3 linked regions of the Homo sapiens genome follow. The protein of the gene in region 2 purifies or fractionates together with the protein of the main gene of each other region. This does not show direct contact. Each region holds a gene or a part of one and is shown on either strand. Other genes may lie near its edges. The genes, in order: ALG8, TM2D2 and SGPP1.

Evidence for each region.
Region 1: the proteins of TM2D2 (region 2) and ALG8 purify together in Homo sapiens (affinity purification with mass spectrometry; one large-scale study listed by BioGRID and IntAct). This does not show direct contact.
Region 3: the proteins of TM2D2 (region 2) and SGPP1 purify together in Homo sapiens (affinity purification with mass spectrometry; one large-scale study listed by BioGRID and IntAct). This does not show direct contact.

What each region holds. Positions count from the first base shown.
Region 1 is NC_000011.10:78,133,013-78,136,669, forward strand, and holds part of ALG8 (dolichyl pyrophosphate Glc1Man9GlcNAc2 alpha-1,3-glucosyltransferase), read right to left. Parts: intron 2,336-3,657; exon of another isoform or gene 2,218-2,335; intron 1-2,217.
Region 2 is NC_000008.11:38,990,868-38,993,625, forward strand, and holds part of TM2D2 (TM2 domain-containing protein 2 isoform a precursor), read right to left. Parts: coding exon 2,678-2,758; intron 679-2,677; coding exon 465-678; 3' UTR 1-464.
Region 3 is NC_000014.9:63,721,430-63,725,086, forward strand, and holds part of SGPP1 (sphingosine-1-phosphate phosphatase 1), read right to left. Parts: intron 1-3,657.

The sequences.
Region 1 (3,657 bases), on a different chromosome or scaffold from region 2:
TTTCAGTAGAGACGGGGTTTCATCGTGTTAACCAGGATGGTCTCGATCTCCTGACCTCGTGATCCGCCCGCCTCGGCCTCCCAAAGTGCTGGGATTACAGGCGTGAGCCACCACACCCAGCCTCTTCTTCCTAATACTTAATCCAAATTGTAGTTATGTAACTATATATTTGCATTGATTTGTTTCTTGTACTGTTATACTTACTGAACTACACACTTCACAGGGCTAGGGATCATATCTATTTTTTCCTCCCTTCTAGCCTAGCAACAGTACCTGGTACATAATAAAGCAATTAGTAAATGTTTTGTTGAATATATCTGCATTTATCCTGTAACTTCCCTCTCATATCCCAGGGGTTTCTGGTTTGAGAAACAGAGCATTAACTACAATTAAAAACATTCGTTTTTAAATATATGAAGTGTTTCATAAATTTGCATGCTATCCTTGTGCGTGGACCATGCTAAGCTTCCTGTATCATTCGATTTTAGTGCAGGCATACCTTAGAGATATTGTGGGTTTAGACCACCATAATGAAGTGAATATCGCAATAAAGTGAGTCACATGAATTTTTTGATTTCCCAGAGCATGTAAAAGTTATGTTTACACTGGCCGGCCGCGGTGGCTCACGCCTGTAATCCCAGCACTTTGGAGGCCGAGGCGGGCGGATCACGAGGTCAGGAGATCGAGACCACCCTGGCTAACATGGTGAAACCCCATCTCTACTAAAAATACAAAAAAAATTAGCCGGGCTTGGTGAGGGGCGCCTGTAGGGTCAGCTACTCGGTAGGCTGAGGCAGAAGAATGGTGTGAACCCGGAAGGTGAGCTTGCAGTGAGCCGAGATAGCGCCACTGCCCTCCAGCCTGGGCGACAGAGCGAGACTCCGTCTCAAAAAAAAAAAAAAGTTATGTTTACACTATACTATAAAACGTGCAATACTACTATGTCTAAAAAGACAGCGTACACCTTCATTTTAAAATACTTTATCGCTAAAACAAAGCTAATGATCATCTGCACCTTCGGCAAGTCCTAATCTTTTTGCTGGTGGAGGATTTTGCTTCAATGTTGATGGCTGTTGATTGATCAGGTTTATGGGTGCTGAAGATTGGGGTGACTTGTGGCAAACTGGTTTTTTTTTTTTTTTGAGATGGAGTCTCACTCTTGTCACCCAGGCTGGAGTGCAATGGTGTGATCTTGGCTCACTACAACCTTCGCCTCCTGGGTTCAAGTGATTCTCCTGCCTCAGCCTCCTAAGTGGCTGGGATCACAGGTGCCCACCACCACACTTGGCTAATTTTTGTATATTTAGTAGAGACGGGGTTTCCCCATGTTGGCCAGGCGGGTCTTGAACTCCTGACCTCAGGTGACCCGCCCGCCTCAGCCTCCCAAAACGCTGGGATTACAGGCATGAGCCACTGCGCCTGGCAAGACTGTGGCAATTGCTTAAAATAAAACAACAATGAAGCTTGCCACATTGATGGGCTCTTCCTTTCACAAAAGATTCCTCTAGTATGCAATGCTGTTTGATAGGATTTTACCCACAGTAAAACTTTCAAAACTAGAGTCAATCCTTCTTCTCAAACCCTGCCACTGATTATTAACTAAGTTTATATAATATTCTAAATCCTTTGTTGTCATTTCAACAATATTCACAGCATCTTCATTAGCAGAGTGCATCTCAAAAGAAACCACTTTCTCTGCTCATCCATGAGAAGTAACTCCTCATCCACTCAAGTTGTATCATGAGATATCATGCAGCAATTCAATCACATGCTCAGGCTCCACTTCTAGTTCTCTTGCTATTCCCATGACATCTGCAGTTACTTTTTCCAATGAAGTCTTGAACCCCTCAAAGTTATCCATTGGAGTTGGAATCTAATTCTTCCAAACTCTTGTTAATGTTGATATCTTGACCTCCTCCCATGAATCATGAATGTTCTTAATAGCATCTAGAATGGTTTCAATTTACTTTGCCCAGATCCATCAGAAGAATCACTATCTATGGCAGATATAGCCTTATGAAATGTATTTCTTAAATAACAAGACTTAAAAGTCAAAACTGATTGGGCATGGTGGCTCACGCCTATAATCCTAGCACTTTGGGAGGCCAAGGCAGGCAGATTGCTTGAGCACAGGAGTTCAAAAACAGCCTGGGCAACACAGCAAAAACCCATCTCTACTAAAAATACAAAAAATTAGCAGGGTATGGTAGCACACACCTTAAGTCCCAGCTACTTGGCAGGTTGAGGTAGGAGGATTGCTTGAGCCTGAAAGGTGGAGGTTGCAGTGAGATGAGATCATGCTACTGCACTACAGCCTGAGAGGCAGAGTGAGACCCTGTTTCAAAAAAAAAAAAAAATCAACTACTCAACTGGCTGCAGAATAGATGTTACATCAGCAGGCATGAAAACAACATTAAGGTTGGGCACAGGGGCTCATGTCTGTAATCCCAGAACTTTGGGAGGCAAAGGTAGGAGGATTGCTTGAGCCTAGGAATTCCAGGCCGGCCTGAGCAACACAGTGACCCCATCTCTCCAAAAATACATTTAAAAAAAAAGCCGGGCATGGTGCTCACGCCTGTAATCCCAACACTTTGGGAGGCCAAAGAGAGCAGATCACTTGAGGCCAGGAGTTCAAGACCAGCCTGGCCAATGTGGCAAAACCCCATCTCTACTAAAAATATAAAAATTAGCAGGGCATGATGGTGTGCACCTGTAATCCCAGCTACTTGGGTGGCTGAAGCAGGAGAATCACTCGAACCCGGGAAGCTGAGGTTGCAGTGAGCTGAGATTGTGCCACTACACTCCAGCATGGGAGACAGAGTGAAACTCCGTCTCAAACATAAATAAATAAGAAAAAAAAAAAAGAAAAATAATGGGTGGGTGCAGTGGCTCATGTCTGTAATCCTAGCACTTTGGGAGGCCAAGACAGGTGGATCGCTTGAGGTCAGGAATTTGAGACGAGCCTGGGCAACATGGTGAAACCCCATCTCTGCAAAAAATACAAAAAGTTAGCTGGGTGTAGTGGTGTGCACCTGTAGTTCAAGCTACTTGGGGAGCTGAGATGGGAGGATTGTTTGAGCCCAGGAAGTAGAGGCAGCAGTGAGCTGAGATCATACCAGTGCACTCCAGCCTGACAAAGTGAAACACTGTCTCAAAAAAGAAAAGAAAAAGGAAAAATATTGACCAGTGAGGTGGCTCAGGCCTGTAATCCCAGCACTTTGGAAGGGCTCACTTGAGCCCAGGAGTTCGAGATCAGCCTGGGCAACACAGTGACACCTCGTCTCTACCAAAAAGAAAAAAAAAAAACAAACCAAAACAAAACACACACATATAGATAGATAGACAGACAGATAATAGAGAGAGAAAGGAAAAAAAATTAGCTGGGCATGGTGGCATCTGTCTTTGTCCCAGCTATTCGGGAGGCTGAGGGAGGAAGGCTGCTCAAGCGCAGGAGATTAAGGCTGCAGTGAGCCATGATGGTGCCGCTGTACTTCACCCTGGGAGATAGAGCGAGACCCTGCCTCTAGAAAAAAAAAATGTTTCTGAGCAGTAGGTCTCAACAGTGGGCTTATTCAGTAAACCATGCTGTAAATAGATGTGCTGTCATCCAGGGCTTTGTTGTTCCATTTATAGATCACAGGCAGAGTAGATTTAGCA
Region 2 (2,758 bases):
ATCCACGGCCATTTCTATTTCTGCTGAAGATTTTCATTGTTCAGCTTCAGATCTCCTTGCATGAAGACTCAGGGTCACAAGAGGAACATGGATCCAAATATTCATTTTGCTCAACTTGTTAGGTCCACTTGCTCCAAAGGACTGAAGATATAGCAATGTACAGAAAGGAAGACTATGGAAACCCATCCACAGCTTGTAAACTCGCCACTATCCTTTATGTTTTGTGCATGAGGAAAGGAACAAATTTGATTCCCCACAACACTTTTTGCTTGTCATTCCGTCTGCAAGGTAAAATCTGGGTTGAAATTCCAAAGTCCAAAGAAGCCTTCTTAACCAAACAAATGCCCTCCAAAAGAAGGAAAATAACATCAGGTCTGATATCAAAGAGGAGTTTTGAGCCTGTAGAGATGAATTCAGAAGACGGAGCTTTCACCCGCCTCCCTGGGCCATGATGGCAGCTCTTCTTAGTAAACAGTGCACCAGTTGCTGCCATCACTTGGCATCAGCCCTCCAGTAATTAGCAAAATAAGGTCAACAAACCACCAAATCCCAAGTCCTCCAAGCGTCAACAGCTTCCCTACTGCAGTGCCAGTGTGTCCCAAACAGAATCGATCCACACCAAAACATCCCAGGAAGAAGGAGTAGAGTAAAGTGGTTATGAAGTAGTGTCCGGTATACCTAGGTGAAAGGAATGAAAAGGAAGATGTTTTACTGCACGAAAATTTAAACCCTTAAGGATTAGTGAATTTAACGTAAGTGATGAGACAGTGCAGTGGACCCTCTGTGGCCTTTTACCCTCCATTTTGTTTTCTTTTATGATATGGTCAGTGAGGTGAGAGGATCAGGAAAAACCAAAGTTTATTATACTCATAGGTCCCAGAGACAGGAGGCACATCATGTTATACAAGGCTACCTGGCAAAGATACCAGGGTGGTTGGAAGATAGAAGGGAGGGGAAGGTTTTTGGCCACTATCTTCATTGGGGTTTCTGCAGGAAAGGCAAGACAGGGCAGGGCGAATAGTTTAGAACTGGCTAGTTTGAATAACCTCAGCAGGCTCTAAGCTATAGGAGTGGTCCCTGGTTGCCTGGCACTTGGACCTGAGAAGACTAAGGCAGAGGAATATTATTTCCTGGGGTGTACAGGCCAGAAACAGAAGATATGTCTCTAGACTAGTTTGCATATCAAAGGCATGCTGCTGGTTGGGCCCTTTGCTATCTCTAAGAAATGACTAGCTTCAGGAAGAGCAGTCTCTTCACAGCCAGAAAGGTTTTTAAGATGTCAAACATCATAATGTACAATAATTTAAAAAACTTTTTGACCATGGTGGTGGCTGATGCCTATAATCCCGGCACTTTGGGAGGCCAAGATGAGAGGACCACTTGAGCCCAGGTGCTCCAGGCCAACCTAGGCAACATAGCGAGACCCTGTTTCTACCAAAAAAAAAAAAAAAAAAAAAAAAAAAGGCCAGGTGTGGTGGAGCACACCTGTAGTCCTAGTTACTCGGGAGGCTGAGGTAGGAGGATCGCTTGAGCCCAGGAGGTCGAGGCTGCAGTGAGCCCTGTTTGTCTGTTTGTGCCATTACACTCCAGCCTGGGCAATGGAACAAGACCCCATCTCCAAAAAAAAAAAAATACGCATTTTTTTATAATACACCCTCTTCACCTTTACTTTACTCTCCTCTAAGAATCTCTAGTTGGTAGAGGGTCTCAACAGAATACTTGCTAAGATATGGAGCATCTCTAAGAACAAATACTGACTTTTGCAGAGTTGGATTGGACAAGAAGTCATCAAGCACATTTGCACAACAGGCACCATGGTAGGAGTAGGAGTCTGGGCTCCCATCCTCCTCTGTAGAGGCTCTTTTCCTGAGACTCAGCTGGCTTCCTGCATGTAGTTCTCTAAGGAAGCACTGTTCTTAAATGAACACTTGATCTCCATACACTCTTTCCTGTTGTTTTGAGCAGCGAAAAGCGAGGACTTCTTCATAAGGCTCTGCCCTTATCCACTGTGCTGACACAGCTGCAGTTACCCTAATATTACTAATCATACTCATAGACTGTTTCCATTAGCAAACTGTACAAGGAAATTCTGTGCCTTCCTTTACCTTAATGATAAACTGATTTTCAGAGTGTGGAGCCTACACTTTTTATAATAAAACCTTTATTCCTGAAATACTAGGGCAATTTGCACAAGATTTATATCTATTGTAGGAATTTTGGGGCTAGATCATCTGGCCCAAAATTCTGTAGATAAGGGATAAACTGAGTGCCCACAGGCACTTAGCAAGTTAGAGAAAGAGACAGTTAGAACTTCACCTTCCGGGCTTAAGTCCAGAGTCCTCTCTACTATAAACATATTGCTTCTGTCAATGAATTATGCACAATGGTAGCCATAGACCCTCTTTGGTGCTTAAAAAAAGTCATATCAAAAAATAACAATGAGCTGAACACAGTGGCATGTGCCTGTTGTCCCAGATACTCGGGAGGCTGAGGCAGGAGGATTGCTTCAGCTCAGGAGGTCCAGGCTGCGATAAGCCATGATTGCACCACTGCACTCCAGCCTGGGTAACAGAGTGAGACCCTGTCTCTTAAAACAAAAAATAAATAAATAAAAAGACAAGGAAAATGGCTCTACCTCCAACCAAGTACCAACTACTCCAATCAAAGTAACACTTACTTTATACAAGGTTTATTTTCTCGTAGAAAGGTCCTAGGACTGGCACACTCAATTCCATCTAAGGCATGGCACTGGACTGAA
Region 3 (3,657 bases), on a different chromosome or scaffold from region 2:
CAAGACTTCGTATCCAGAAAAAAAAAAAAGGAATTAGTAATAAGGACTTATAAACTCAGGAAAACGTGAATTTCAAACACAAGTATCGTGCTCCATAAAAAAGAGGCAAGCCAATTCAATTTTTTAATAAACTGTGTTTCTTTCCAGAATTACCATAGTGATCAATTTTTCTTGGATCTTGCAGCCTCCTCTGGTCTTTACTGTGACCTACTTTTGTAACTCTTACTTTTTGCCTTTCTTCCATTTATCTTTTCATGACCTCACAGATATCTTCTTCTATTATTTACAGTAAACAACATTTTGACAGAATATTCTTATGTGTCTTTCTTTTCCAAAGCTCTTACTATGTTTATCAAATTTTTTATTTATATTAGGTGACAAATCAGCATTTGATTTCAGTCAACATCTTCATACATGTTTAAAACACAAATATTTGTGGATGTTGCATATGTATGTACATACACAAACACAAATTATCTTCTCAAGGTATATAAAAGCTATTCTCATATTTTAAGAATACAATCATATATTTCAAAAATAATATTACTGCAAGCATACCTTAAAAATCACACACAAAGTGTGATTTAAAATGAATTTTCTATATAAGCTGCTGAGTCAGTCTGAGCCCCTGACACTTACTGGCTAGGTTACTTTGCTTAAGTTACATAATATAACCTCCCTGTACCTCAGTTTCCTCATCTGTAAACCCATGCTAGTAATAGGAACATTGGGGTATTATAGAAGAGTAAATGAGATAAAAGACATTTCAAACAATGTCTGATTCATAGTAAGTGCTTAAAAATATATATTAACAGCTGGGCGCAGTGGCTCATGCCTGTAATCCCAACACTTTAGGAGTCCAAGGTGGGCAGATCACAAGGTCAGGAGTTAGAGGCTAGCCTGACCAACATGGTGAAACCCTGTCTCTATTGAAAAAAAAAAAAAAAAAAAATTAGCCGGGCGTGGTGGGGCGTGCCTGTAATCCCAGCTACTCAGGAGGCTGAAGTAGGAGAACTACTTGAACCCAGGAGGCAGAGGTTGCAGTGAGCCAATATCGCACCACTGCACTCCAGCCTGGGCAACAGAGTGAGACTCCATCTCAAAAAATAAAAAATAAAAAATAAAAATATTAACAATGCTATAACATTATTATTATAAAATATAATTATTATAATAAAAAGTAGTAAAAGCACACAAAATGAAAGACTAGTTGGCAATGAGTTGTCTATAAAGTAAGTGCTACAGCTAATTTTTAGCAGGGCAAGGTGGCTGACGCCTGTAATACCAGCACTTTGGGAGGCCGAGGTGGGAGGATCACTTGAGCTCAGGAGTTCAAGACCAGCCTAAGCAACATGGCAAAACCCCGTCTCTATAACAAACAAACAAACAAACAAAATTAGCTGGTGGTAGTGTGTGCCTGTGGTCCCAGCTACTTGGGAGGCTGAGGTGGGAGGATCACTTAAGCCTGGGAGGTCGAGGCTGCAGTGAGCCGGAATCGTGCCACTGTACTCCAGTCTGAGCGACAGAGTAAGACCCTGTCTCAAAAAAAAAAAAAAAAAATTAATCTAAAACCTTCTAATTAAATAAAGTATACAGTTAAAACTGATTACATTCCATATTATTTAAAAATTAAATTAATTCAAGTCAAACAGAGCTTTAAAAATTAAGAAATTTTATTTTTGAAAAGAACATGCAAACATAAATGGAAAAGGAACGTCATATTGTTTATCTTATTCTTCAAAGGACTATTTATTGTCTTTATATCAGATGCTCCTTATTTCTTAATTTTTTTTCCAATTCAGGCTACAAAAAATTCCAATGAATAATATGAGAGCAATAACCATTATCCTAGGCAATGGATCTCAAGTTATTTAATCCTTGGGAAAAGGTCATAACATTTTCTATCCTCCATCACCATAAAATTTATATACAAAACTCTTTAAGTAATTACTTGGAGCTATACTATTCCAATCTCTCCTTTGTCTTATAACGTACCTTAAAAAAATTCAGGCAGGGTGCAGTGACTCACGTCTGTAATCCCAGCACTTTGGGAGGCTGAGGGGAGTGGATCACGAGGTCAAGAGATCGAGACCATCCTGGCCAACATGGTGAAACCCCGTCTCTACTAAAAATACAAACATTAGCCGGGGGTGGTGGTGTGCGCCTGTAGTCCCAGCTACTGAGGAGGCTGAGGCAGGAGAATCGCTTGAACCGGGGAGGCAGAGTTTGCAGTGAGACAAGATCACACCACCACACTCCAGCCTGGGTGACAAAGAGAGATTTCGTCTCAAAAAAAAAAAAAATTCAAAGACTGGAATTTCAAAGAAGCTGAGACAGCAATCTTGAAGAAATACAACTAACTCCTCACTCATCTAATGGGTCAGAATCTCTGGGAAACTTACCCTGGGAAATGTAGAAATCTGCATTTTTAAACAACCCCGAGTTTGTACGCTGTCTTTTTTTTTTGAGATAGGGTCTTGCCCTGTCATCTAGGCTGAAGTGCAGTGGTGCAATCACACCTCACTGCAGCCTCAACCTCCCAGGCTCAAGTGATGCTCCCACCTCAGCCTCCCTAGTAGCTAGAACTACAGGCATGCGCCACCATGCCCAGCTGATTTTTGATTTTTTTTTGCAGAGACAGGGTCTCGCTATATTGCCCAGGCTGGTCTCCAACTCCTGGGCTCAAGGGATCCTTCCGCCTCAGCCTCCCAAAGTGCTAGGTGTACAGGGATGAACCACTACACCTGGCCATATACTGTCATTTTAAGTGTAAGTGAGGAATAATGAAACAGAAAGGATTAATTTAAAATGCTCTGGGTGGTGAATCTTGAGCAAATTTCAATGAGGGCAGAAACATTAAGTAGTAGGTAGTAGTGAAGTAGTAAAGCCAAGACAAAGGAATGGTATAGAACTCAGTTTCAAGAGATGTTTCAGCACGCCAGGCATATATAAGTAACCATACCTGTCCCAAATAAGCAGCTGAGGCACAGCAGATAGGCAAGACTGCCAACCAAAACTTATTAGAAAAACACCAGGCTTTCATTATTTAATTCTTCCCCCAGTTTCTAGGGGAAAGGCTTTCTATATAAGCCTCCAATGCAGTACAATACTAATTCACAGAGTAGAGGACCCAAACAGCTGAAGCAAAGGAAGGTACTTTTGTTTTCAATAGATAACAAGGATCTTTAAAAAAAAAAAAAAAAAAAAAAAAAGGAAAAGGAAAAGGAGGCCAGGCGCGGTGGCTCACGCCTGTAATGCCAGCACTCTGGGAGGCCAGTGGTGGGGAGGCCGATGAGCGGGGGGCGGCTAATTTTTTGTATTTTTTAGTAGAGACGGGGTTTCACTGTGTTAGCCAGGATGGTCTCAATCTCCTGATTGAGATCAGGAGATTGCAGAGAGCCGAGATTGCGCCACAGCACTCCAGCCTGGGCAACAGAGCGAGACTCCGTCTTAAAAAAAAAAAAGGAAAAGCTGGCACTTGGGAGGCCAAGGAGGGAGGATAACTTGAGCCCAGGAGTTCGAGACCAGCCTAGGCAATATAGTGAGACCCCGACTCTTAGGGAAAAAAAAAAGGAAAAAGGTTAAAAAGCCATCTTGTTTTTTGTACTGGATTATTAGTCAAACATTTATAAACACAGAACTTTCATATAAAGGAGG